5 separate regions of the Homo sapiens genome follow, and regions 1, 2, 3 and 5 are each linked to region 4. The links come from fine-mapping of genetic effects on gene expression. A gene starts in region 4. Each other region holds a variant in brackets. All regions are shown on one strand. Distances are from middle to middle.

Region 1 (5,134 bases), 72 kb after region 4:
CAACCAGTCTCTTGTTTTCTTGATGAGCAGCAAATTGTGTGACACTGGTAAGTTCAAACTGGGGGGTGGAAAAAAAGGCAACAGATCATACAACTACTAGAATTAAAAACTGACAAGGCTACTCTCTGGAAAAGTCATGAGAAAAAGTATCCTATTAGTCCTATTAGTGGCAGATCTTTATTAATAAAGTGCCTAGGCTGTGTTTAAGGTAGATACAAAGGTGAATTAAGGAGTAATCACTAACATGAACCTGTATGCGGTACTTACATTGGCCCTTGATACTTGAGTCTGTGGATCTATCAACCTGAAATTTTAAAAGATACATTATGTCACAAATGTTGGATAAATTTAATATTCCTAGAAGAGTTTGTAGAAGTCCAGAATAAATACAAATTCCCCGAAATAGAGATAAAGCCTGTTAGAGGGTGAGGCGAGATAGCTGTGTGTGACCACGTGTCCTGCTTTCTGCCTTTAAGGAACCTGTGTAGCTAAAGCTCAGGGTACCTATAATGGAAGATTATATAGCAAGTAGAAGATTTAACTTCACAGGATTCTGCAACTTACCCAAACAGACAGCATTATAATCCTCAACAGATCTGCTATATAATATGGATGGATTATATTCTGTACAGCCTCCCTCTCAACAAACATCCATTGGCAACTTTAATGTCCCTGAAGTGCAAGATCAACTTAGTCTAAATTTAACATTATTGAAAAAGATGAGGTAGCGGTGACAAAATAGTGAAGGGATTTTGACAAAACTCTTATCAATTTGGGTAAAAGAGGAATAATGTTTAAGAAAGTATTCCAAAATATATTTCCTTGTTTTAATTATTTACTATTTATTTATTCTGAGAAGAGTCTTGCTGTCACACAGGCTGGAGTGCAGCAGCCCAGTCTTGGCTCACTGCAACCTCCACCTCCCGGGTTCAAGCGATTCTCCTGCCTCAGCCTCCTGAGTAGCTGGGATTACAGGTGTCAGCCAAAATGCCTGGCTAATTTTTGTATTTTTAGTAGAAGTGGGGTTTCACCATGTTGACCAGGCTGGTGTCGAACTCCTGACCTCAGGGGATCTGCCTGCTTCAGTCTCCCAAAGTGCTGGGATTACAGGCATGAACCACCGCGCCAGGCCTTCAGAATATATTTCTTCAACAGTATTTTAAGCATCATCTAATAATCAGGTTGACATATCCTAGAAAATAAACTATATGAGAGAATTTATTGCTATCTTAGATAAGTGGTTATAAATTTCTACTGTATTGTACTCGTGTTGGAATAATTAACATGCTATTATGTAAATTATTACTATACATTTTATAGGTGAAAGCAAAAATATAGTTTGTGGAAAAAATGGTTATGATTCCATTTATATGTTAAATGTCCAGATCTATAGAGATGGCAATTTTAGTGGTTAGTGGCTTCCTAGGGCTGGGTGGGTTGCCAGGGGCTAATGGGTATTCTTTCTGAGGTGATGAAAATGTTGTAAAATTGATTGTGATGATGGTTGTACAACTCTGAATATACTAGAAACCACTGAATTGTACATTTAAATTGTATGTGAATTATATCTCAGTAAAACTGTTACACCCCCATGCCCCCAACAAAAGGCTACAGTTGGAAATACGTGCAGTTACACTTATTAAACCGTAAGACTTATAATCAGAGAACTCGAGATTGAGTTCTACCCTGGCTACTCACCTGATCTTGTGCAAGTCACCCGGACTTCTTACAACTGGTTCATCTGTAAAACTGTGGTAAGAACCCCCACTTCCAAGAGGTGGTTATGACAGTTAATGAGAAGTGTGTATGGGAATTTAAGTAGACAAAGCTTAAGAAAAGTTACTTTTACGTCCCTATTAATGGGCATGAATTTAATTTTTTGAATATAGATCATAAACAGTTTTCCTCAAGTTGGAATAACTTTCATAGGTATTTTGTAAAATTCCCTTATAAGTGAAAACTTAACACATGCATATTTTGTGGGTCACTTTCAGAAGTTTGCTGTTTAAAT[C/G]AGGTAACCTAGATTTCTCTTTTTTTATTATTATACTTTAAGTTCTGAGATACATGTGCAGAACGTGCAGGTTTGTTACATAGGTATACATGTTGCTGTGGTGGTTTGCTGCGCCCATCAACCCGTTATCTACATTAGGTATTTCTCCTAATGCTATCCCTCCCCTTGACACCCACCCACCAACAGGCCCCAGTGTGTGATGTTCCCCTTCCTGTGCCTATATGTTCTCATTGTTCAGCTCCCACTTATGAGTGAGAACATGCGGTGTTTGGTTTTCTGTTCCTGTGTTAGTTTGCTGAGAATGATGGTTTCCAGCTTCATCCATGTCCCTGCAAAGGACATGAAGTCATTCTTTTTTATGGCTGCATAGTATTCCTTGGTGTATATGTGCCACATTTTCTTTATCCAGTCTATCATTGATGGGCATTTGGGTTGGTTCCAAGTCTTAGCTATTGTGAATAGTGGTGCAATACACATAGTGTGCATGTGTTTTTATAGAAAATGATTATAGTCCTTTGGGTATGTACCCAGTAATGGGATTGCTGGGTCAAATGGTTATTTCTGGTTCTAGATCCTTGAGGAATCGCCACACTGTCTTCCACAATAGTTGAACTAATTTACATTCCCAGCAGTATAAAAGCGTTCCTATTTCTCCACATCCTCTCCAGCATCTGTTGTTTCCTGACTTTTTAATGATCGCCATTCTAACTGGTGTGAGATGGTATCTCATTGTGGTTTTGATTTGCATTTCTCTAACGACCAGTGATGATGAGCTTTTTTTCACGTTTGTCAGCCGCATGTCTTCTTTTGAAAAATGTCTGTTCATATCCTTCACCCACTTTTTGACGGGGTTGTTTTATTCTTGTAAATGTGTTTAAGTTCTTTGTAGATTCTGGATATTAGCCCTCTGTCAGATGGATAGATTGAAAAAATTTTCTCCCATTCTGTAGGTTGCCTGTTCACTCTGATGATAGTTTCTTTTGCTGTGCAGAAGCTCTTTAGTTTAATTAGACCCCATTTGTCAATTTTGGCTTTTGTTGCCATTGCTTCTGGTGTTTTCATCATGAACTCTTTGCCCATGCCTCTGTCCTGAATGGTATTGCCTAGGTTTTCTTCTAGGGTTTTTATGGTTTTAGGTCTTACATTTAAATCTTTAATCCATCTTGACTTAATTTTTGTATAAGGTGTTAAGAGGAAGGGGTCCAGTTTCAGTTTTCTGCATATGGCTAGCCAGTTTTCCCAACATCATTTATTAAATAGGGAGTCCTTTCCTCATTTCTTGTTTTTGTCAGGTTTGTCAAAGATCAGATGGTTGTAGATGTTTGGTGTTATTTCTGAGGCCTCTGTTCTGTTCCATTGGTCTATATATCTGTTTTGGTACCAGTACCATGCTGTTTTGGTTACTGTAGCCTTGTAGTATAGTTTGAAGTCAGGTAGCATGATACCTCCAGCTTTGTTCCTTTTGCTTAGGATTATCTGGGCTATGCGGGCTCTTTTTTGGTTCCATATGAAATTTAAAGTAGTTTTTTCTAACTCTGTTAAGAAAGTCAGTGGTAGCTTGATGGGAATAGCACTATTACTTTGGGCAGTATGGCCATTTTCACGATATTGATTCTTCCTATCCATGAGCATGGCATGTTTTTCCATTTGTTTGTGTCCTCTCTTATTTCCTTGAGCAGTGGTTTGTAGTTCTCCTTGAAGAGGTCCTTCACATCCCTTGTAAGTTGTATTCCTAGGTATTTTATTCTCTTAGTAGCAATTGTGAATGGGAGTTCACTCATGATTTGGCTGTTTGTGTATTATTGGTGTATAGGAATGCTTGTGATTTTTGCACATTAATTTTGTATCCTGAGACTTTGCTGACGTTGCTTATCAGCTTAAGGAGTTTTTGGGCTGAGACGATGGAGTTTTCTAAACATACAATCATGTCATCTTTAAACAGAGATAATCTGACTTCCTCTCTTCCTATTTGAATACCCTCATTGCTTTCTCTTGCCTGACTGCCCTGGCCAGAACTTCCAATATTATGTTGAATAGGAGTGGTGAGAGAGGGCATCCTTGTCTTGTGCTAATTTTCAAAGGGAATGCTTCCAGTTTTTGCCCATTCAGTATGATACTGGCTGTGAGTTTGTCATAAATAGCTCATTATTTTGAGATATGTTCCATCAATACCTAGTTTATTGAGTGTTTTTAGCATGAAGGGGTGTTGAATTTTATCGAAGGCCTTTTCTGCATCTATTGAGATAATCATGTGGTTTTTGTCATTGGTTCTGTTTACGTGATGGATTACATTTACTGATTTGCGTATGTCGAACCAGCCTTGCATCCCAGGGATGAAGCCAACTTGATCATGGTGGATAAGCTTTTTAATGTGCTGCTGGATTCAGTTTGCTGGTATTTTATTGAGGATTTTTGCATTGATGTTCATCAGGGGTATTGCCCTGAAATTGTGTTTTTTTATTGTGTCTCTGCCAGGTTTTGGTATCAGGATGATGCTGGCTTCATAAAATGAGTTAGGGAGGAGTCCCTCTTTTTCTATTGTTTGGAATAGTTTTAGAAGGAATGGTACCAGCTCCTCTTTGTAACTCTGGTAGAATGTGGCTGTGAATCCATCTGGTCCTGGGCTTTTTTTTGGTTGGTAGGCTATTAATTATTGCCTCAATTTCAGAACTTGTTATCGGTCTATTCAGGGATTCAACTTCTTCCTGGTTTAATCTTGGGAGGGTGTATGTGTCCAGGAATTTATCCATTTCTTCTAGATTTTCTAGTTTATTTGCATACAGGTGTTTATAGTATTCTCTGTTGGTAGTTTGTATTTCTCTGGGATCAGTGGTGATAATCCCCTTTATCATTTTTTATTGTGTCTGTTTGATTCTTCTCTCTTTTCTTCTTTATTAGTCTGGCTAGCAGTCTATCAATTTTGTTAATCTTTTCAAAAAACCAGCTCCTGGATTCATTGATTTTTGAAGGGTTTTTCGTGTCTCTATCTCCTTCAGTTCTGCTCTCATCTTAGTTATTTCTTGTCTTCTGCTAGCTTTTGAATTTGTTTACTCTTGCTTCTCCAGTTTTTTTGAGATGGAGTTTTGCTCTTGTTGCCCAGGCTGGAGTGCAATGGCATGATCT
Region 2 (5,134 bases), 47 kb after region 4:
AGGCAACTCATCAGCCAGATTGGTAAGTTATGATAAAAGTGTTGGGAAATCAGGTACAGATCCCTACAGTCTATCTCATATATTAACTATTTCACACTAATAAGCAGCTCATGTGAAAGCCTGAGCTCAGCTTTACTCCACTCATGTAATTTTTTTACCCCCAAAATTTGTAAGTATGATTAGACTGTTGCTGCAGAAATAATTGATAGACTATAGGCTAATCACGTAAATAAAACCTCTTCAATTATAATTAAAGTTATTTAATAACTAAATCTCAAAGGTCATATTAATAATTGTAAACTGGTAAGTACTTACTGAATACCTGCTCTGTTCAAGGCACTGTTTTGGGCTTCTAAAAGGCTCCCACAAGTTCCAGTCTAAATGTGAAGGTATAAAATATTTACATGAAAAGTTATTAAGTTCTATGTTACACCATTTTACTTGTGCATATAATGTATTGTCCTTCTGCCCTTACGAGTGGAACTTGTCTTCTGATATGTAGTACTTTTATATTTAAAAGTAAGAACTACATTTCATAATCATCGCTTAACAAAACTTTATACTTATTTGAGCTTTTCACATACATTATATGTTCACAATAACCCTGTGAGATAGGCATGTAATCGTTTTAAAGATGAAAAAAGAGAAACTTAGAGAAAGAAGTAAGTCATGTTTCTGGGACTTAAACCAGGGTTATTTAGCTATAAGTCCAAATGGGTTTTATATTCTTGAAAGTTTATATTAACACCAAACAGTAAAATCTTATTGACTATATTTTGGGAAAATTCTGCCTTGTGAGATTGATTTATTCATTTATCAAGCATTTACTAAGCATCTGTTATGCCACATTTTCTGTTAGGTGCTGGGAATACCAACCCCTTTGCTTTCAGGAGACTTTAGGTTTACTAGTGGGTAATACGTTATAAGCATTTCATTCTGGAGTAAAGTTTTTTCAGTTAATTGATTTGCATATTAGACATTTCTATTATGTTTTAGTACAAGAACTTGGAGGATTTTACCTTTGTAAATGTTTTATTATAAACCATTCAATATTAAGTATTGTCAAATAAGTACAAATAAGTTTTCTTCAAGTGGACATTTAATATTAAGCGGCAAACTTATGGAGCAATAGTTCTTAACCTTTTTTGAGAATCTGAGGAAAACTCCAGGATGATTGTTCCAGAACTAATGCCTATATGACATACGTACACAATTTTGTGTATGATATGCTAGAGTCCATGTGCTTAAAGCTTGGGTCTATGGACCTCAGATTAAGAGCTGTCCTTCTAGAGCAGTGTTACTTAAGTTTTATTTATACACATACCCAGAATTTTTGCATCCTGTTAATACTGCCTTCACTATTGTTACATGTTTTTATTTTTTTTGAGAGTATAATTTTTCCTTAGAAATAACAGTTGTTAAATCATAGTCCTTAAAATGCTAGTCATTTTTGCCCTAAATACATAATCACTAAGTGTTCTTTGGTGTGCCATCTAATGTCACCTTGCTTACCACCAGGTTGCAGTCCACAATTGGGGAATATTATCCTTTTCATTTTAATCCATCGTTTTACTCTTTATTCTCTTCTTAGAAAATATAAATTCTTTTTTTTTTTTTTTGAGACAGAGTCTTGCTCTGTCACCCAGGCTGGAGTGCAGTGGCATGTTCTCAGCTCACTGCAACCTGTGCCTCCTAGGTTCAAGCGATTCTCCCGCCTCAGCCTCCTTAGTATATGGGACTTCAGGTGCATGCCACCACGTCCAGCCAAGTTTTGTATTTTTAGTAGAGATAGGGTTTCACCATGTTGGCCAGGGTGGTCTCGATCTCCTGACCTCGTGATCCATCCGCCTCTGTGTCCCAAAGTGCTGGGATTACAGGCGTGAGCCACTGCGCCCGGCCAATACAAATTCTTTACCTCTGCTTATAAAACACTGTAATGTGCTTTTGAGTCTGATAAATATCTTGAGAAAAGGTGTAAAGAATCTGGGAGCAAAATGGAAGCCTTTTTGACTAATAACTTGCCTGCTGAAATAATAATAATTAACATTTATTGAGCATTTACTGTGCCATGGCTATTCTTAGTGCTTTATATGTTTTAACTCACGTGAATCTTACCACAACATTTATGAAATATTTCTTCCCTTCATTCACTGCACAGGTATTCATTCAGTACAACAAATGTTTCTAGGTGCTGATGATATTTATGACAGTAAACAAAGTCTCTGTCCTTATTGAGCTTAATTTACCAGATGAGAAGACTGAGATACAGAGAGGTAACATAACATAATTTGTAGGTCTCTTAGCTAACATGTGGGAGACCAGATTTGAACCCAGGTGGCCTGGCTTCAGAGCTTTTACTCTTAATTGCCGCTCTATACTAGGCTCTCCTATTTTGCTTCCTCAGACTTTGGTCTGATGATTTGGAGGAAAACAAACTTGTCATTTGACTTTTTAAAGATGCACATTAAAAAAATTTCAATGTCATTTCTCATATTGGGACAGGCCTTAAAATAGATTCAATGTTAACTGCTATGTAGGGTTGTTAAAAACATAAGATAATGTATGTAAAATGTATGTTACTCATGATTATGAAATGTTAACTTGTTTTTACATTTCCGTCT[G/GTTCT]TTCTTTCAAGTAATTTCAATAAAGTTCAATTATAAATTGAATTCCTACTATTTGCCAGGACATGTTGGCTCTAGGGATGGAGCAGTGAAGAAGACAAAGGCTGTACTCATGGATCTTGAACTCTAGGTGGGGGAAGATGCAGACAGAAAAATACATAGTATGTCAGTGATAAGTACTGGGTAAGGAGATGTAAGGGGGCTGGGCAGTGCTAGTCAGTGATGTTCAGGGAAAACAGGAGGTGACATTTGAGCAGGGACCTAAATAAGGTTGGGGAGTAAGCCACGTGCATCTGGGGAAAGAGTCTACCAGACAGAGGCAACAGTAAGTGCAAAAGCCCTGATTCGTTCACATTTTTGAGAAATAGGGGCTGGAATGGAGTGAGCAAAGATCTAAGTGGCAGGGCATGCTATCTGAACAGTAGCAGAGGGGTGCAAGATCGATGTCAGGATTTTGATTACTGAGGGTGGAAAGCCATTACAGCATTTTCAGAAAAAGCATGATATGGGGCCGGGCATGTGTGGCTCACACACTGTAATCCCAGCACTTTGGGAGGCCGAGGTGGGTGGATCACCTCAGGTCAGGAGTTCAAGACCAGCCTGGCCAACATGGTGAAACCCCATCTCTACTAAAAATACAAAAATTAGCCGGGCGTGGTGGCGGACGCCATGTGATCACAGCTACTTGGGAGGCTGAGGCAGGAGAATCGCTTGAACTGCAGAGGCGGAGGTTGCAGTGAGCTGAGATCATACCACTGTACTCCATCCTGGGTGACAGAGTGAGACTCTGTCTCAAAAAAAAGAAAAAGCACTATACGCTCTAACTTAGTTTTTAAAAATTCACTAGCAGCTCTGTAGATATTATACAACACTGGGGAATGTGGCAGGATGCTAAAGGTGAAAGTAGGGAAATCAGGAGGCCATTGCATATTGCAGTGCTCCAGCCAAGAGCTGGTGATGGATTGGATAGGAGGATATCTATGAAGGGGTGAATGAAAAGTGGGTGGATTCTGGCTACGTTTTCAAGGCAAAGTCAATATAATTTGCCCAGTCATTTTGATTATAAAATGTGAGAGAAAGGAGCCAGGGATGACTTTAAGACATTTGGCTTGAGCAACTGAAAGGATAGAATTGCCAGTTTCTTTGATAGGCAAAATTGGGGATAAAGATCCTGAGCTTGAGTTGGACATATGAAATATAAAATTCTTATTAGACATAAAAGTGTAGGCATCGGATAAAAAAACCTAGAGTTCAGAGGAAGAGTCCAGGCCAGAGATATAAATTTGGGAGGCATCAAATAAAGATTTCTTGATATCACTTCCAATTGTGTATGTGGCGGAGATTGAATCTCAATGTGAGAGGAGAAATTATTGATATTATAATTTTAAGCTTGACCATTTTAATGTAGTCAGCATTTAATGATTTTAGTTTATCAAATGAAAATAACATTTACTTTTAAATATTTAATATAGTTATATATAAGTATGTATGTTTATATTTTAAGTGTAGAAATATGTAACAGTTTTACTTTTTATGATAAGAACTGAAGTAAAATATAGCAAAATATTTTGGTTCTTAGGAGTGGAAACCTTGTAATTTACTACTGTATGTAACTATATTCCTATTAGAATTTAGAGTTATTTATATAAATATCTGATTTTTTTGTGTGGTTTTTAAGGTAATGCTATGGGCTATGTACGAATGATAAGATCTGGTGGTCTTCATTGTAGCAGCAATGCCATTAGGTATGGATGCAAACATCATTTTTGCCTTGTTTATGCCATTTTAAAAATTGTGTCCATTAAATATATGTTACAAGTGATATTGTAGATAAGGTGTTTGTTCTTGATATATTTTGAGATAAAATATGGAAGAAAACTATTAATTCTACTAGATTTTTCTCAAATTTTAAGACTGCAGCAGACTTCTGAAAATATTTCTCTTAAGTTAATTTATCAATATGGTTTATGAATGCATGTAAAGATTACATGATTTTAAGGATTAAAATATTCATATCTAAAATTCAATTTGGAACTAAAGTGGTGATATGAATAATATTACTGAAATGCACAGTTGTTTCCAAATACATAGTTGAAAATTTTAGAGTCCTGCAGTACCACTTTTATATCTGTGTCAATTGCACATATTTTACTTGACCTAATAAATGCCTTCCCAAATTCTTATGTAGATTTGTTCCTGATCTTGAAGATATTGTAAATTTTGAAGAACTAGTAAAAGAAGAAGGTCTTGCAGAAGAAACATTAAAAGCAGCAAGGTAATCTAAATTTGGAAATATAAAAAAGTGTGTTTATAAAAAACATTCTGAAGAGAAGACCAGAGGGTAATATGTAATTTTTATGCCACTGTTTTTATTATACAAAATTATGGCCTCAGTTTATGAAGTATAATTTTTAAGACTTCAGTATTCTAAGACCTTTCCAGCTTCTAGAACATGCTGTCCAGTATTTCAGCCACTAGCCACACATGGCTCTTGAGCACCTAAAATTTGGCTGGTC
Region 3 (5,134 bases), 81 kb after region 4:
TATTTACCAGGATGAGCATCCCAAAATCCAAAATGCTCCAATGAGCATCTCTTTTGAGCATCAAGTTGGCACTCAAAAAGTTTCAGATTTTGGAGCATTTGAGATTTCCAGATTTGGAATGCTCAACTCTACCACATTTTGTTGATCCATTCATTTGATGTTGGGCATTTGTATTATTTCCACCATTTGGATATCACGAAAAGGACTGCTATGAACATTTGCGTATAAGTTTTTGTTTGAACACCTGTATTTAATTCTTTTGGGTAACTACCCAGGAGCCCGCCAAACTATTTTTTCACAGCAGCTGAACCATTTTATATTCCCACCAGCAATGGGTTCCAGTTTCTTCACATCCTTGCTAAACGCTTATTTTCCATTAAATATATATATCATATATATATCATATATATCATATATATGATATCGATATCATATATATCATATATATGATATATCATATATATATCATATATCATATCATATATCATATCATATATATATCATATATATCATATATATATAAACATCTGTGAGACAGTGTGCATGCGTGCGCACGCCATCTTAATATGGAGTGACATATCTCATTGTGGATTTGTTTTGCATTTCCCTAGTAACACATAGCATCTTTTCATGTCCTCATTGGCCATTTGTATATGATCTTTGGAAAAATGTCTATTTCAAGTCCTTGGTCCATTTTTTAATTGGGTTGTCTTTCTGTTGAGTTTTATAAGAGTTCTTTGTATATTTTGTGTACTACATCCATATTAGATAGAATTTGTGAATACTTTTTTCCCATTCTGTAGTTTTTCTTTTCACTTTGATGTGCTGTGGTTTTTCACAGTACTTTTACATATATTTTCCTTTGATCTTTTTGGTGGAAATTATTCCAGGACCAATAGGATTATAAGAACCATGAGCCCATTTCTGTAAAAGGTCCAGGACATAGTGAAAGAACAGGTTTTATTAATAAGAACTTAATTCTCAGATAAGGTTCATAATAAATGAAAAGGATGGGCTTAATGAATGGAAGAAGCTATATCCTAATTTTTGCTATAGTCCTAGTTACCTTTTTTGAAGCTAACGTTCATTGAGCACTTTTCATGTGCCAGTGAGTTGTAAATGTCTTACATATATTAGCACATTTATTCCTCATGACATTTATTCCTCATGACAACAGTGGAGGGTGTGAATAGTTACTTTCATTTTACAGCTGAAAAAACTGAGGTACAGAGGCTCAAAAATTTGCTTAAGGTCACATAACTAAGAAATGCCGAAGCCAGGAATAAACTGAGACATTCTGGCTCTAAAGCAGTGCTGTCCCTTAGAAATGTAATGGAAGCCTTATATGTCATCGAAGTTTTTCCAGCGGCCACATTAAGTGAAAAGTAACAGATAAAATTAATTTTACTTAATCCAGTATATCTAAAATATTACCAGACATGTGATTAACCTAAAAAATTAGTGAGATGTTTTACATCCTAAATCTTAGAAATTTGGTATGTATTTAACACTGAAAACACATCTCAGTTCAGGCTAGTTTTGCTGCAGATGCTACCTGTGGCTACAGTATCATACACCCATGTTCATAACCAGGATTTTGGTCATATCTGAAACCCAGATCGTATTACCTGAAACACTAAATCATGTAGTTAATATGGCCTGCTCTCTCTGTGATGGCCAAGTTATTTAGGCAGATTTTTAAGTTTTTTTCCATTATTTTTTATAAATAGTACTCTCAGAAATGAAAAAAAAAAAGCAAAACCAAAAAACTTCCATTTTCAAGCTCTGAGCTATAATATAGAGAATAAGTCTAGTGTGATGGCATCTTTGTGAACAACAGTATTCACTCACCACTGGATTTTTGAAGATACCAGTTCTTGTCTCTAAGGGAGCACTTTCTAGGCTATCTATCTTATGTAAAAAGTAGTGGGGGCAAAAGCAAGAGTAGTCTCTTCATTCCAGTACTAACATTTCAGATGGGTGCATTAGCCTTAAAAGGGGAATTAGCTGAAGCCATAAGAAAGTCTGAAAATAAAACTGAACGTACCTCAAAGATTGACTGGTGACCATCAGATGGGATTCTGTCATGCGGAAGATGTTATGAATAGCCCGAGCAGCCAATACTTGTCTCATCGCTTCATAAATCACTTCAGTAGTGCTGTCTGTTTTAACTGCCATTGATCCCAAAAACCGAACTATAAACATCTGCTGCAAAAGAGAATCTGGAAGACAGCATTTTCC[A/G]CTCAGGATCTCATTTACTTCCTGCTGCTGTTGATCTGCATACCAGGGTCAGATGTGCTAGTTTTGCCTGCTTTCTGTGGAGGACTTTCTACCAAAATTTCTCAATACCACTTTTATAAGCCCAATATTGCCAAAGCTCTGCGTCTTCCATTTGTCTACATCTTGTCAGTTTGTTTGGAACTACTTCATTAGACTAGAAAGGCTTTTCTTCATCTATAAAATGAAATGATGGTGGTACCAGATGAACATCCTTCTAATGCTGAAACTCTAGGTGACTACATTGTACCTTTTCTCTGAAAAGAGTGAGTTCACTAGACAATAGAAAATTCATTACTTTGGCCCACTGATAAAGTCCTCTTAGAAAAGAAATTTTATTTGCAGGATATAAGATCTCATGTTGGGTCTCATGCAATTCATACTTCATGTGTATTACGGAAAGGCAGTGATGATGTTTCATAGCCTAAAGGAAGTCAGTCCTGGCTGCTGACAGTGGCGCATAACTTGACAAAACTGACTCCCAGCAACCATAACTAGAAGACCAAAGAAGGTTTTTTCTTTTTTTTCTTTTTTGAGACAGGGTCTCACTCTGTAGCCCAGGCTGGAGTGCAATGGCATGATTTCAGCTCACTGCAACCTCCGCCTCCCAGGTTCAAGTGATTCTCATGTCTCAGCCTCCTGAGTAGCTAGGATTACAGGCACCTGTCACTACACCTGGCTAATTTTTGTATATATATATATATTTTTGTAGAGACAGGGTTCTCACTGTGTTGCCCATGCTGGTCTTGAACTCCTAAGCTCACGTGATTCACCTGCCTCGGCCTCCAAAAGTGCTGGGATTACAGGCGTGAGCCAGCGTGCCGGCCATCAGATACGTTCTTAAGTACATTATAAGAATGTAAAAAACCAAAAATTTGAATTTGAAAGACTTAAATATCATTTGTGTCATCTTCAAATTCAAGAACAAGTTATTTGTGCTTTTGGTTTTCTAAAATGACACAGCGTATTTCCAGTTCACCAAGACTGCATTTGAATGTGATAACAGATTCAGATTTCACAACATTTCTATGCTATGCTACAAAAACGCTATGGCTAATGGTGAAATAGCTGTAGGTGGTCTTTCAGCTACCCCTCAGTTTTTATCCAAGACTTGCCTCCACTGCAGATATCTTACTAAACTTTCAGAACAACAAATCTTAATTCATACTCCTAATCATAGCTCTCTAAAACATGATTTCACATCTTATTTCAATGGCCGTTGTCATTTTGTGCAGAGGAAAGAATAAGGACACCAAACTAGTCACTTACCTTCTGCTTCTGGAAATGATTCATCCTCAGTTTCACCAAAAGGGTTGGTACGCCTAGGGGAATAGCCAGAGTTGAACAAACACGACAGCTGCAGCTAGAAGGGCACTTAACACTTGAACTGGAAATCAGAATGGCAACAGTCTTTGGTGGTGGAGGGGGACACAAGATACCTCAAATTTACTTTCAGTTCTCCCAGAGATAACCTCTCTCAGCCCATACCTGCTCCCTCTGTTCTGATCAAGGAATTCTGTAGCAGGAAGCACAATATCGAATTGAATCGGCGTTCCAGGCGCGATCAGCTCCTCTGCTTCAGGTAGACTGGCTGTTGCTTTGGGAACAATCTTGTCATTTTCATTTTCCATCTCTGAATTTTTCAGGTTCTGGCTGAAGGGGAAAAAAATCAATTCCCTTAACCTTACGCTTTTATAATCAAGTGAATACTTGTTGAAGGCTGAGGTGACTTTTATGAATGAAAATACAAGGGGAAAGATTGACCTCAATCCCTTAATCCATTCTACAAATAAACCTTCTTCAAACTTCCTTCATATCCTTGGCTAAAAACCTTCAGTCTGCCCCATTTCCTGCAGTTCTCTCTGCTGCACAGCATCCTGCACTGTGTTACTAGTTTTCTGTCTGTATCCTTCTCTGTGAGGCAGGTTTTGGAGGGCCTATGCTATAGCTAAGTCATATGTATTCTTGGAACATAGTAGGCACTAAAAAATGTTAGCTGAATGAACCAAAGGTCCTGGCTTGGCATTTAATCACCATCTGGCTCTAATTTCCCCAAAAGCCTCCCTTTCCACTCCTTTAATGCACCCTCTACGAGAGCTGTACCACACATACCACATGCTTTTCCTTATTTCCATCTTTATCCCAATTCTGCTGCTCACCCAACTCTCCCAACCCAGCTCAAATTCTTCCTTATCCACTAGGCCAGCCGGCACCCCGCCTCCCTCCTCTGAACTCCTGTGATTCTTCTCAGTAAGTCACAGGCACAGTCTTGCGGCCCTGTGTGCCTCCTGAGCTTCGCATTGTGCCCACACTCATTGCTGACATTGTGGCCCATCAAATACTGTGCTCTCTGTGGACAGACTAATCAGGAACCAACATGTTCTTCTCCTCCAGTCTCAGAATACTGTAATTTAACTTTTCAACGTTTTAAAAATCTTTTCTCCTCAGCCAGACTATAAACTCCTTTGAAGGGCAAAGAATATCAATGTATTTTGATTTCTTTCATTGCCTGGACCTTAAAAAGCTCTCAGTGATCTTTCTGTTCATTTGATATGTCAATATTTTCCTATTTCTCAAACATGTCAATAACTGAATGTAGTGTATCAAACTACTTTACAACAGGCATTTGACAAATGATCATAATGACTGGAATGTGGATGAAACAGTACATAGGCTTGTAGATGGTCACTGCAAGGCAAGCCCTTGGAGACCACTTGGTCTGACCTCCATTGTTAACAGAAAAGGAAACTGAGGCCTCTGGAGAAATTGAGCAGTTTTGAAGGCACTCAGTTACCTGGTGGGCGAGCCAGATTATAAACAGGGGTCTCCTCACTGCCAGGAGAGTGCATCTCCAGGA
Region 4 (5,000 bases):
AGTAGAATGAAGAATATGTGATTACTTAAAATAATGATTTGCCTTCTGCAGACTACGTCTAAGAACAATAGGACATTTTTATAAATAACTTTCAGATAGCACTTTTCATTTAGTGAATGTGCTTTTCTATTTGGTATCTAATTTGTAATTCTCTAACAAAATTTGAAATTATAGGCTGTGAAATTTGATTTAAACATATTTAAGATCAAGACAGAAAATCCCTGAGTTTTTTTTTTTTTTTTGAGATGGAGTCTTGCTCTGTTGCCCAGGCTGGAGTGTAGTGGCTCAGACGACTTTCCTGCCTCAGCCTCCAGAGTAGCTGGGACTATAGGCAGGCACCACCATGCCCATCTAATTTTTATATTTTTAGTAGGGACAGGGTTTCACCACGTTGCCCAGGCTGGTCTCAAACTCCTGACCTCAAGTGATCCACCCACCTTGGCCTCCCAAAGTACTGGGATTACAGGCATGAGCCACCACACTGGGACTTGTGAGATCTGGGACTTCTGAGATCTTTTTAAGATAAATCTATATTGATTCATAATAGCAACCTGGTACAGTATGTGGTTGGTATTGTTCTATGTACCTTATATGTATTAACTAATTTAGTCCTCGTAAGAATCCCACAAGGTGTTTACTAGTTTTATTTTATTTTCATTTTATAGATGAGGAAATTGAGGCAGAGGTTAAATTACGTGACCCAAGATCACATGGTTAGTAAGTGGCAGAGCCAGGATTTGGACCTAGGCAATTTGGCAGTCAAAACTGTGCTTTCAATTATTACATGACACTGCCTCTTGCTACTAATCTATTAACTTTAATAGATTAGTGTATTTATAGACTCAAATTTTTCTGACTTGTAAGTTCAATTTATCACAATGAGCTGCTGGGAGATTAATTACAGTGATTTAATGCAAATGTTAAGAATCCAGGAAAGTCAAACTCATGGTCACACAGAAAGTACAGGAAAAAAGTTTGTCAGCCATTAGACCCTAAGGATGCCTGTTCTTTTCAAGATTTTTTTTTTCTTTCTGAAATGCCCACTAAGTCTGCCATAGGGTCAGAAAGCAATTTTCTTACATGTTTTATAGTTTCTGCATCTAGCCTGGTGCCTGGTACCCAGTGGGCACTCAATAAACATTTAACTCAGGGCAGATCCAATGACCTCAGAAGAATGCTCTTCAATAGACCTTTTGCCTACATTGATTAGTTCTTTTCGGTACTTTTTAAGATTACAAGAGTAAAACCCTAATAAATTCTCATTGTTAAGGATTCAAAACACATAAGTAGACACATCAAAACTTGAAAATCCTGTTACTCACCAACACATGCTTTTCCCCAGGTAACCACCGTCCTCTGATTTGTCTTCCTATGAATTTACATACACGTAGGCACATACGCGTTTGTATAACTTAAAAACATAAATGTAATCACAAATACACATTACTCTGCAACTGTCTTGTGTCGGTTGTTCATGCCATTATAAATATATTTCATCTATTTTAGCAGCTCTTCAGTGATTCGTAGTATGGATGTATTGAGCTTTATGTAATTCACTTGTAATGAACATTTAGATAGTTTCCTATTAAAAACCACGTTGCTATAAATATTCTTGTGCAAATACGTGTATGCATGTAGAATTTTACACCGATCCCGATTCTCCAAAAATCCAAATTGCAGGTGGGATCATTTTAGAATGTACTTCAATAGCGTTCTTCATCCTGCCTCGCGTTTTTAAAAGGACTGAGTGGAGAGCGGGGAAGAGGTCGTAAGATCCCCTGTTAGGGTGTTCATAAAGTAACTTCTCCTCTCGCACAGAACGTCTTGACTAAAAAACAATCCGTACAGAATGTGCGGGAGAGCTGTAGGAACTCCTACGGTGGCGACAGAGAGGGAAACAGGCTTGTTGGAAGAAGCGCCTGGTCAGCGTTATCCTCGAGGATCATGCCTTCCTGTTAATTCCCCACCCCATCAATTCTACCTTTTTAGGTTAGACTGGGGAGTAACTTTCCCAGGTATTAAAAATCGTCTAGAGAGAGCAGGGCGAAATTAGAGTGCCGAAGTGGCTTGAGAAGCACAGTGAATGGTGGCGAAGCCCGAGCCGGGTCGCAAGACGCCCGCTGGCACTGCCGGCGCCATGGCGGCCGCCTTCGGCCACGGCGGAGGACTCGCTTTCCCAGGGGCCCCCGCGGTCGCAGGGGCAACGAGCCCGGCCGGCCCTCGCGAGCGGAGGCGGGGCCGGGGCCGGAAGTCACGTGCTGTGACAGTAGCTGGGGTGAGGCCGTCGTCGCCGCACGGGCTGGTTGGGGCTGTGTCTGTGGGAGGCGCCGGGGTGATGGCGGTGGAGACTCTGTCCCCGGACTGGGAGTTTGACCGCGTTGACGACGGCTCGCAGAGTAAGGGAGCTGCAGGGCGAGGGCTGCGGGTGGACGCTCCTTCGGCCCGCCGCTGTTCTGGGCTGGGCAGCGCTCCTGCGAGAGGGACGGCTGCGCAGCCGTCTGGTGCGGGACACTTCAGAGCCCTTGGGGTGTGCGAGGGACGCGCTCTCCAGCGTTACTTTCGGGGTTGGGGTCCCAGCCACGGCGGGTCAGGCTGCCCGTTCAGGGCTCGGCGTGTGAGGCGGAGACTCTCCTGGGGAGCCTGCGGTGCCCCGCGGGGAGCGGCGTCCCCCTTCAGCTGCCCCGGGGCTTGGGCGGGGCGCGCCCGGGAGGCCCAGCGGCCCCGGGATCCCAGGCTGCTTCTGTCTCTGGCCTCTTGGGGATTTCGCCAGATTCTGAGCGTTCAGCTCTGGAGGACGCTGATGTCTGGGTTCCTGTTTCGGTTTCCTGTTTTTCTTCTTTTCCTCCCAAATCAACTTTTGCAAGTTTGGGTGTCTTTCCCATCGCGTTGCTATAACCGTAGAAGGGAGCGAAAAAAGAACTTTTCACCCTGCGAAAATAAACACGTGAATGTCATTTTATCATTTTCCAGGCCTTTTATTTATGCTAAGTGATATTTTTCAGTGATGTTCTGCAGTTTCCATCGCAGTTATAAAGGCTTCAAAAATTACAGCAAATCTTCAAATTTTGCTTCACAAGATCGAATTGTCTGATTTTAACTTAGAAGTCTATCCCGAAATAAACAAATTGTGTTTCTTTCAGTAAAATATTGAGGCCAAATTAATTGTAGTGAAACTCTACTTGAAATAAATACAAGTTGGCAATCTGCTTCTTATCTTTGGTCATAGTAATCTGTGTAAGTGATCTAAGAGAGATTGGAGCATGCTGTTTGTGATTTTTTTTTTCCCTCATAGTTTTCCCAAAAGGTGGAACGTTGCTTTTAAAAATTCCGGATGAATTTTGCTTGATTTACGAAGAGAGACTAATGCCTACAATGTTAGATGAATTAGGTTTTACAAGTCTCTCAGAGAAGAGTGAGCTACATCCAGGATGGGTTGCAGTTTTTCACAAAACATTCCTGAGGTCAGGAGTTCAAGACCAGCCTGGCTAACATGGTGAAACCCCGTCTCTACTAAAAAATAAATAGCTGGGCTTGGTGGCGAGCGCCTGTAATTCCAGCTACTTGGGAGGCTGAGGCAGGAGAATCGCTTGAACCCGGCAGGCGGAGGTTGCAGTGAGCCGAGATCGCGCCATTGCACTCTAGCCTGGGTGATAATAAGGTATTAGCTCTTATGCAGCATAAAAATTAACCTTGGAGATAATGACAAAATCTTTTAATTTTTTTTTGTGGAGGGGATTCTGTATTGTTATAAAGTGAACTGTACCTTGTCATATATGTTTTATGGACAAAGATGACGAACTGGTATCTTCAAAAAAAATTGGAATAGAGTTATGTTAATTGAGTTTGAAAATGGTTCAGCCTGGAGTAGAATGGTCTGATTCACTCAACAGATATTTTCTACAACCAGTGGCTGTGCTAGATATTAGGGATAAAAAGATAAAACAAGGAGTGCAGTCTGTTGACAAAGATGAGCATGTTAAGTAGGTTTTTGGAATTTTTACTCTTAAAAAATTACCATGTAGTTCTTATCTCAACTTTTGTTATTTTAACTTTCACCAATTTTACAACCGTTTATTGTCAGCAAGGAACTTTTAATGTTATTTTAGGTTTTCTGTTTCCTGTTTGTGAATCCCTGAACATACTAAAGGAGTGATTTATTGGCGTGGTGTTTCTCTAGCATTGTCTTTTTTTTTTTTTTTTTTTTTCGAGACAAGGTCTCACTCTGTCGCCCAGTGCCGTGGCATCGCCACGGCTCACTGCAGCCTCGACCAGCTGAGCTCAGGTGATCTTCCTACCTCAGCCTCCTTAGTAGCTGGCTGATTTTTTCTTTTTAAATTGGGATAGAGACAAGGTTTTGCCATGTTGAACTCCTGGTCTCAAGCGACCCACCGGCCTTGGCCTCCTAAAGTGTTGGGGTGAGCCACCATGCCCGGCCTAGCATTGTCTTTAAGAAGTCATTTGCTGGTCAAATGCAGCTTTGACTGGTCATTTCCTGTGTAGTTGAGAATAAGACAACTATTTGGGGTTCTGAGAATCTGGGCAGTCTTATATGTAAGCTGTAGGGAAGAGAACACCTCCCTGTGCTTGGCGTTCATTAATTTTTGGTCTGTGAATCATATCTAGACTAATTGTTTTCCAAAATTGCCTAGATTAATGCTATAATAAGACAGAAACCTTAATGAACTAAATGGATTCACCGGATTTAAAACTTTATGTGGTTGAAGAATAAAGGAGAGTGGGGGCTAGGTCTTTATACTTTAATACAGCATGAGTCAGAACACACTTTCTCTTACTTGCTTCACATTGCTAATTTGAGGAGAGCAAATTTTTACCTTTTTTAGAAGACAAAGGTTGAATAAAGTTATTCATATCAATAAAAGAAACTGAGTTGGAGTTGAATTTGTTACCTTTGGGAACAAGTAATGAATTTTTATGTGTAACGTGAAATACTTTGACGAATAGGCATATTTTAAAATCCAGCTTATTCCAATGATTCCTTA
Region 5 (5,134 bases), 110 kb after region 4:
ACATAAATACCAAGTTACCTGTTTTTCATATGCCAGCAGTTGCTTAGAAAGCTGTTGTGTGGCCAGGCACATCTCATTCTGTGGAGAGAAGAGAAAAAGCAAGTAAGATTAGTCCAATGTATACATAGTCACTGAAAAATGCCATCTCTGAGAATCCCTTAAAAAGTAATATTGGCTGGGTCCAGTGGTGCACACCTATAATCCTAGTACTTTGGGAGATTGAGGCAGGAAGATCACTTGAGACCAGGAGTTTGAGACCAGACTAGGCAACACAGCAAAACTCCATCTCTGCAAAATAAAAACATTTTTAATTATCCAGGCAGGATGGCATGCACCTGTAGTCCCAGCTATTCAGGAGGCTAAGATGGGAGGACCCCTTAAGCCCAGGAGGTTGAGGCTGCAGTAAGCCATCATTGTGCCACTGCATTCTAGCCTGGGTGACAGAGTGAGACCTTGTCTCTAAAAAAAAATTATAAAAGAAAAAAAAATCCCTTTCCACCATATGGAGCTAAAAGAAAAAAGAAGAAGAAAGCATATGTGTGTGCCTGTCAAATAATAAAATGTTTTGTTCAGACATTTGGAAAACAATACCAAAACAAATCAAAAGGTTAAAGCTTGCTATTTTATTTTTTAACCCTTTACAAATGACTGCTCCTTCTGGTCAGTCAGTCCATAAAGAAATGTAGTGAGCAATTATAATGTGCCAGACATTCAACAAGGGCACAGTCCCTGTCCTCATGGGGCTTTTCAGGGAAGCACGCATCAAAAAAATAGTTACAAGTGTGATGAGAACTGCAAAAGAAAAATACTGGCTGTGTTGGGAGGCTCTGACAGACAGTCTCCAGGGAACAGATGTTCTGAAGACAAACTAGGAGTCAGCCATGGGGACGAGCTTTCCAGGAGGCGCCAACACGTGGAAGAAATGCACTGCCTGTCTGAACAGCTCTGAAGTGGAGCGTGGCTGGGGCAAGAGCTGTGCGCTTGGAGGTGATATCAGGCTGGGAATGAGGCAGTGGGAAGGTGTGCAGGCCCCCGGGGCCCAGGCTCACACATACTGGAAGCACAGTGGGGACTGAAGCAGCATATGACAAGGTCAGATTCCACCAGGCTTAGAACACTCGCTGGCAATGATGGATGGTAACAGAAGCACAGCTAAACCCAAGTATCCCAGAAAACCAGAGGAAACACTGCTCTTCAAGAGCTGCGATGCCCTGGGAGGCCTGTTTTGTGCCATTTTCACCAGCCCGTACTGCTCATTTTCCTCTCCTCTTGTTTATTCCTCTAATCTCTGGCTACACAGCGGTTTTCTACCACTATCCTCCTACCACTGATGTGGGCAGCCTAGAAAACTTGCCTTACATTTCTAAAGCTCAGTTAAAGCTTAAGATTCAGGGTTTATTCCTAAGGAGCAGAGCCACTGGGTCTGACATGGCACAGATGATGGGAGGACACTGGCCTACCTCCTTGGCCTTGGCCTCCACTGGCTATTTCTCCTGGGGTTGTTGTTCCTTTAAGGCTAAGTCCTGAGCTCTGCAGGAGCTTATTTTATTTTTCCCAGTCCTATTTGGCAGAATACAGTAGAGCCAAGTCCTACCTTTTTTTGACCCTCTTCGCAGACAACTGGCCAACCTGTTCCCTGACTTCCTGCTCTGCCCTAAGGAATAGGCATTAATAGACCAGGAAACGTGGCTCTTTTTCCTCAGAAGAAAGTCAGACAAATACAACAAAAGTGCCTGGCTCTGACATCCTACTGGTATTCAACCCCTTTCAAAACTAACCAGAAATGTGACTTCTAGCCACATAGTCAGGAAGTCAGCAAGTGGACAAAGCCACAAGCACAATGTCCTTCATTCAGATAGGAACGTCCAACAATTCTTAGCACACAGCAAGCCCTCAACAAATGTTTGATGAATGAATGAATGAACAAGATTAGAAGATTCATCTAAATTCCAAGTTTAAAACAATACCTGAAATCATGGTGTAAGGGTTTTAAAATCCTTCCTAACTGTACAAGGAAACATCACAAATGAAATAAAATACAAAGCAATTGGCCAGAGACTACTACCTGTCAACCATCTTTAGCAGTGTTGTTTTGAAGATCAGAGTGCATGGAAACAAAGGTCTTATCTCACTCACTGGGCTGATACTCAGCTATGACTGAAAATCTCGTGCTCCTTCTTTCTGAGTTAGCAGCAGATGGATTCATTCAAGCTATCTTGGCATGTTCCTGAGGGCAGCACCATGTGGAACATGATTTGCAGACCCACAGAATCATTGTAACAGCAGCTAACATTTACAGAGGGCTTCATTCATGCCAGACCCTATGCTAAATGCATTCTGTGCACGACCTCATCTAATTCCAATGACCCTGTAAAAGCAGGTTCTAATTAATAACTCTATTTTATAGATGAAGAAACTGAAGCACTGAGAGATTAAGCCACCTGTGCAAGGATACACGGCTGATGAGTGGCAGGGCTGGGATGTGAACCTGGAGCTGTCCGATTCTAAAATCCACACTCCTAAATGCTACTGAGATCCCAAGTTCTACCACAAGGCAGGAGAGGAGAAGGCCTCTGCTTTACACTAGGGTGGGCAAACTTTTTCTGTAAGGAGCCAGAGAGTAAATATTTTAGGCTTGTGGGCCATATATGGTCTTTGCCACAACTATTCAACTCTGCTTTGTAGCACAAAAGAAGCCAGAAATAACATATAAACAAGTAAATGTGGCTTCATTCTGATATAACTTTATTTACAAAAATAAGATGCTGGCCCAAGAGCCATGGATTACTGATCCTGCTTTGTCATCAGATGTCTCAAAGACCCATTCTTTTGCCACACCCTCTGCAGGAGGCTCTCTTAAGCTACACCATTTCAGATCCCAGGAGCTTCTACTCTTCTAATTCATTCTTTTCTTTATTTTAGTCAACTCTAATATGTTACTTCCCCATATATGCCTCCTTCAGAGACTGGTCAACACATATAACCACCCTCCAGGCCTTCCAAACAAGCAGGGACCATGGGCCACTCAA[G/A]TTCTTCCTCAGAGCTTACTGGCAAATGCTCCGAATGTAATGGAAAGACCTGCCAGGGAACTGCCAGCATCAGGCTGTACCCAAAGCTCAAGGGGAGAGCACTCATGTGCCACTCACACAGCCACACAGCTCCACCTCCGCTCAGGGAAGAAGGGGCACAGCGTGCAACACACAACAGCTGCCTTCCAAAACGACTTCGAACAACCAGACTCTCTGGGTCTCTCCTAGGAATACCATTTGAAAATGCTGCGTGTTTTCCTATGTGTAATATTTCAGGGTGCAAGACCAACTATGATTCTGTGCAGCCAGTATGAGTTCATCGGAAACCAACATGCTTACAACACAGCCTGTCACCTGCCCTGAACAGAGCACATTGTGTGAAAAGTCTTTCAAAAGAGATCAACTTTAATCTTACTCATACTTAAGCTACTGTACACAAAGGTTGTAAGAAATGCTTTACCAACATCAGCTAATTAATCCACGCCCTGTGCCCTGTGAGGTAGGCCTGCAAAAATATCTCTACAACAGGACTTGCAAAACTGGAGCCCGAGTGAGGAGTAAATATTAGCAATAACATCAATAAAGATAGCTGCTAACCCTGAGTCTGCCCTAAGTGCTTGATGTTGCTGTTAAATGTTTTTCATATATTATCACATTTAATCCTCACAGTGCACCCATGAAGTAGATACTATTATTATTTCCATTTTGTAAACGTGGAGACTAAGCTTCAGAAAGGATAAATAACTTTCTAAAGCCACATGACTAGTGACTGGCAGGCAACAACTTAATGCAGGACTCGAAATCAAAAGCTCATGTTCTGACTATTATGCTATTCCAATCTAAAGTCCAAAATTGCACCTACTCAATACTCAGGTGGGCAGGACCTGTAGGGCCCATAGATATGAACCTAAGTCCCACACTTTTCTAGTGGTAGAAGAGCAAAAGACGTGGGCTAAAGTGGGAATTCTCAATGGAGTTCCATGAGCAGCATTGTTTTGGGCACTCTGGGCCGCTCTGGCTGCCATCTACACTATGCACCGCTTTGTGAGAAGCCCTGAAAGGACACCCTGAGGAGGGTTTGCTGACAGCATCTCCCATGCTCAACAGAACCTCCCGGGGCTGTTGCCAAGGCAGAAAATCAAGTGGCTAGCAAGCCTGAAAGGAAAACTGGGCATTTGGCAAAGGAATGTTTATCTTTCTGTAGCACAGAACGCTAACTAAATGCAACTGTCACCTGAAACCCCCAAGGGCCTCTGTGCGCAGCAGCATCCACGGTGAATATGAATGGAGAGGCTAGAGAGTGGGGTGGAGGAAATCCACATCGATCTATACCAACTATTTGGCTGGAGATGTTGCCTAGTCACATTCAGTACCCAGTGTTTATCACAAAGCTGGCGGTCACGGGTCGCACTAGTTCAGGAGCCCCTCGAGACAGGATGCACACAGGGAGTAGTGAGGGGTGTGGCAAGAACGCGGCTGGAGCGTCTCATGCGAGGCAGGCCACGGGGGGATGCCTGCTGGACCTGGACTTTATTCCAGCGGCAGTGGGGAAGCACCAAGGAACTCAGGCAGGAGTATGAGAAGCTCAGGCACGGGTGGAAGAAAACCAGGAGTGGTGGTGGTGGGAAGAAAACACTGAAGTGGGAGAGAGAATAGATGAGGGGGACTGATCAGGAGGCCACTTGGAGAAGCTGAGATAAACAAGTGTCTGAGCCTGAGGCAGACAGTGCAGAGCGGGGCATGGAGGTATTCCTGAGGCAGAAACAGCAGGGTGTGGTGAGTGAGGAAGGCGGGGGAGTCAGAAAGAACTGTGCTGCCCATGTGGAAGGCCAGATGGAGAACGGTGCCTTCAGCCAAGGAACTGAGGAGGGGATATGAATTTGGAAATGACAACAAAGTGTGCCGTTGAGATGTCCTTGCTTTTAGGTGGAGCTGTCCCAAATTCAGTCCTTCATTCAACACCTATGGGGCCAGACTGCTACCTACCAAACACTGAATGGGGCCAGACATGGTGTAGGGCACTGGCAACATCTAACTCTGAGCTCTGGGAGCTGAGAGTCCATGAAGGGACAAGGAAACCCCGTCATTATGTCTTAAGTGCTCTG

The links. PIP is the estimated chance that this variant, and not a neighbour inherited with it, causes the effect.
Region 1: its variant is fine-mapped to the expression of WASHC4 in skeletal muscle (GTEx, PIP above 0.99).
Region 2: its variant is fine-mapped to the expression of WASHC4 in whole blood (INTERVAL, PIP above 0.99). The same link has a PIP of 0.9 or more in tibial nerve.
Region 3: its variant is fine-mapped to the expression of WASHC4 in skeletal muscle (GTEx, PIP above 0.99).
Region 5: its variant is fine-mapped to the expression of WASHC4 in amygdala (GTEx, PIP above 0.99).

The regions. Positions count from the first base shown.
Region 1 is chr12:105,176,959-105,182,092 of GRCh38, forward strand. APPL2 (adaptor protein, phosphotyrosine interacting with PH domain and leucine zipper 2) reads right to left here. Exons shown (of 21, transcript NM_018171.5): 18 at 268-304; 19 at 1-58. Among named protein-coding and RNA genes, the nearest start is that of APPL2, 57 kb to the right of the region's middle. The variant C/G (reference allele first, on the strand shown) is at 2,012.
Region 2 is chr12:105,152,430-105,157,563 of GRCh38, forward strand. It overlaps WASHC4 (WASH complex subunit 4), which reads left to right. Exons shown (of 33, transcript NM_015275.3): 26 at 1-22; 27 at 4,297-4,363; 28 at 4,807-4,893. Among named protein-coding and RNA genes, the nearest start is that of WASHC4, 47 kb to the left of the region's middle. The variant G/GTTCT (reference allele first, on the strand shown) is at 2,622.
Region 3 is chr12:105,186,226-105,191,359 of GRCh38, forward strand. APPL2 (adaptor protein, phosphotyrosine interacting with PH domain and leucine zipper 2) reads right to left here. Exons shown (of 21, transcript NM_018171.5): 15 at 3,766-3,930; 16 at 3,547-3,599; 17 at 2,048-2,222. Among named protein-coding and RNA genes, the nearest start is that of APPL2, 47 kb to the right of the region's middle. The variant A/G (reference allele first, on the strand shown) is at 2,242.
Region 4 is chr12:105,105,466-105,110,465 of GRCh38, forward strand. WASHC4 (WASH complex subunit 4) reads left to right here and starts at 2,266. Exons shown (of 33, transcript NM_015275.3): 1 at 2,266-2,396. The coding sequence starts at 2,336. It overlaps LOC414300 (a long non-coding RNA gene), which reads right to left and starts at 2,177. Exons shown (of 2, transcript NR_121211.1): 1 at 1,323-2,177. RefSeq lists silencers at 2,075-2,354, 2,565-2,814 and enhancers at 2,375-2,534, 4,373-4,532.
Region 5 is chr12:105,217,648-105,222,781 of GRCh38, forward strand. It overlaps APPL2 (adaptor protein, phosphotyrosine interacting with PH domain and leucine zipper 2), which reads right to left. Exons shown (of 21, transcript NM_018171.5): 3 at 19-78. Among named protein-coding and RNA genes, the nearest start is that of APPL2, 16 kb to the right of the region's middle. The variant G/A (reference allele first, on the strand shown) is at 3,030.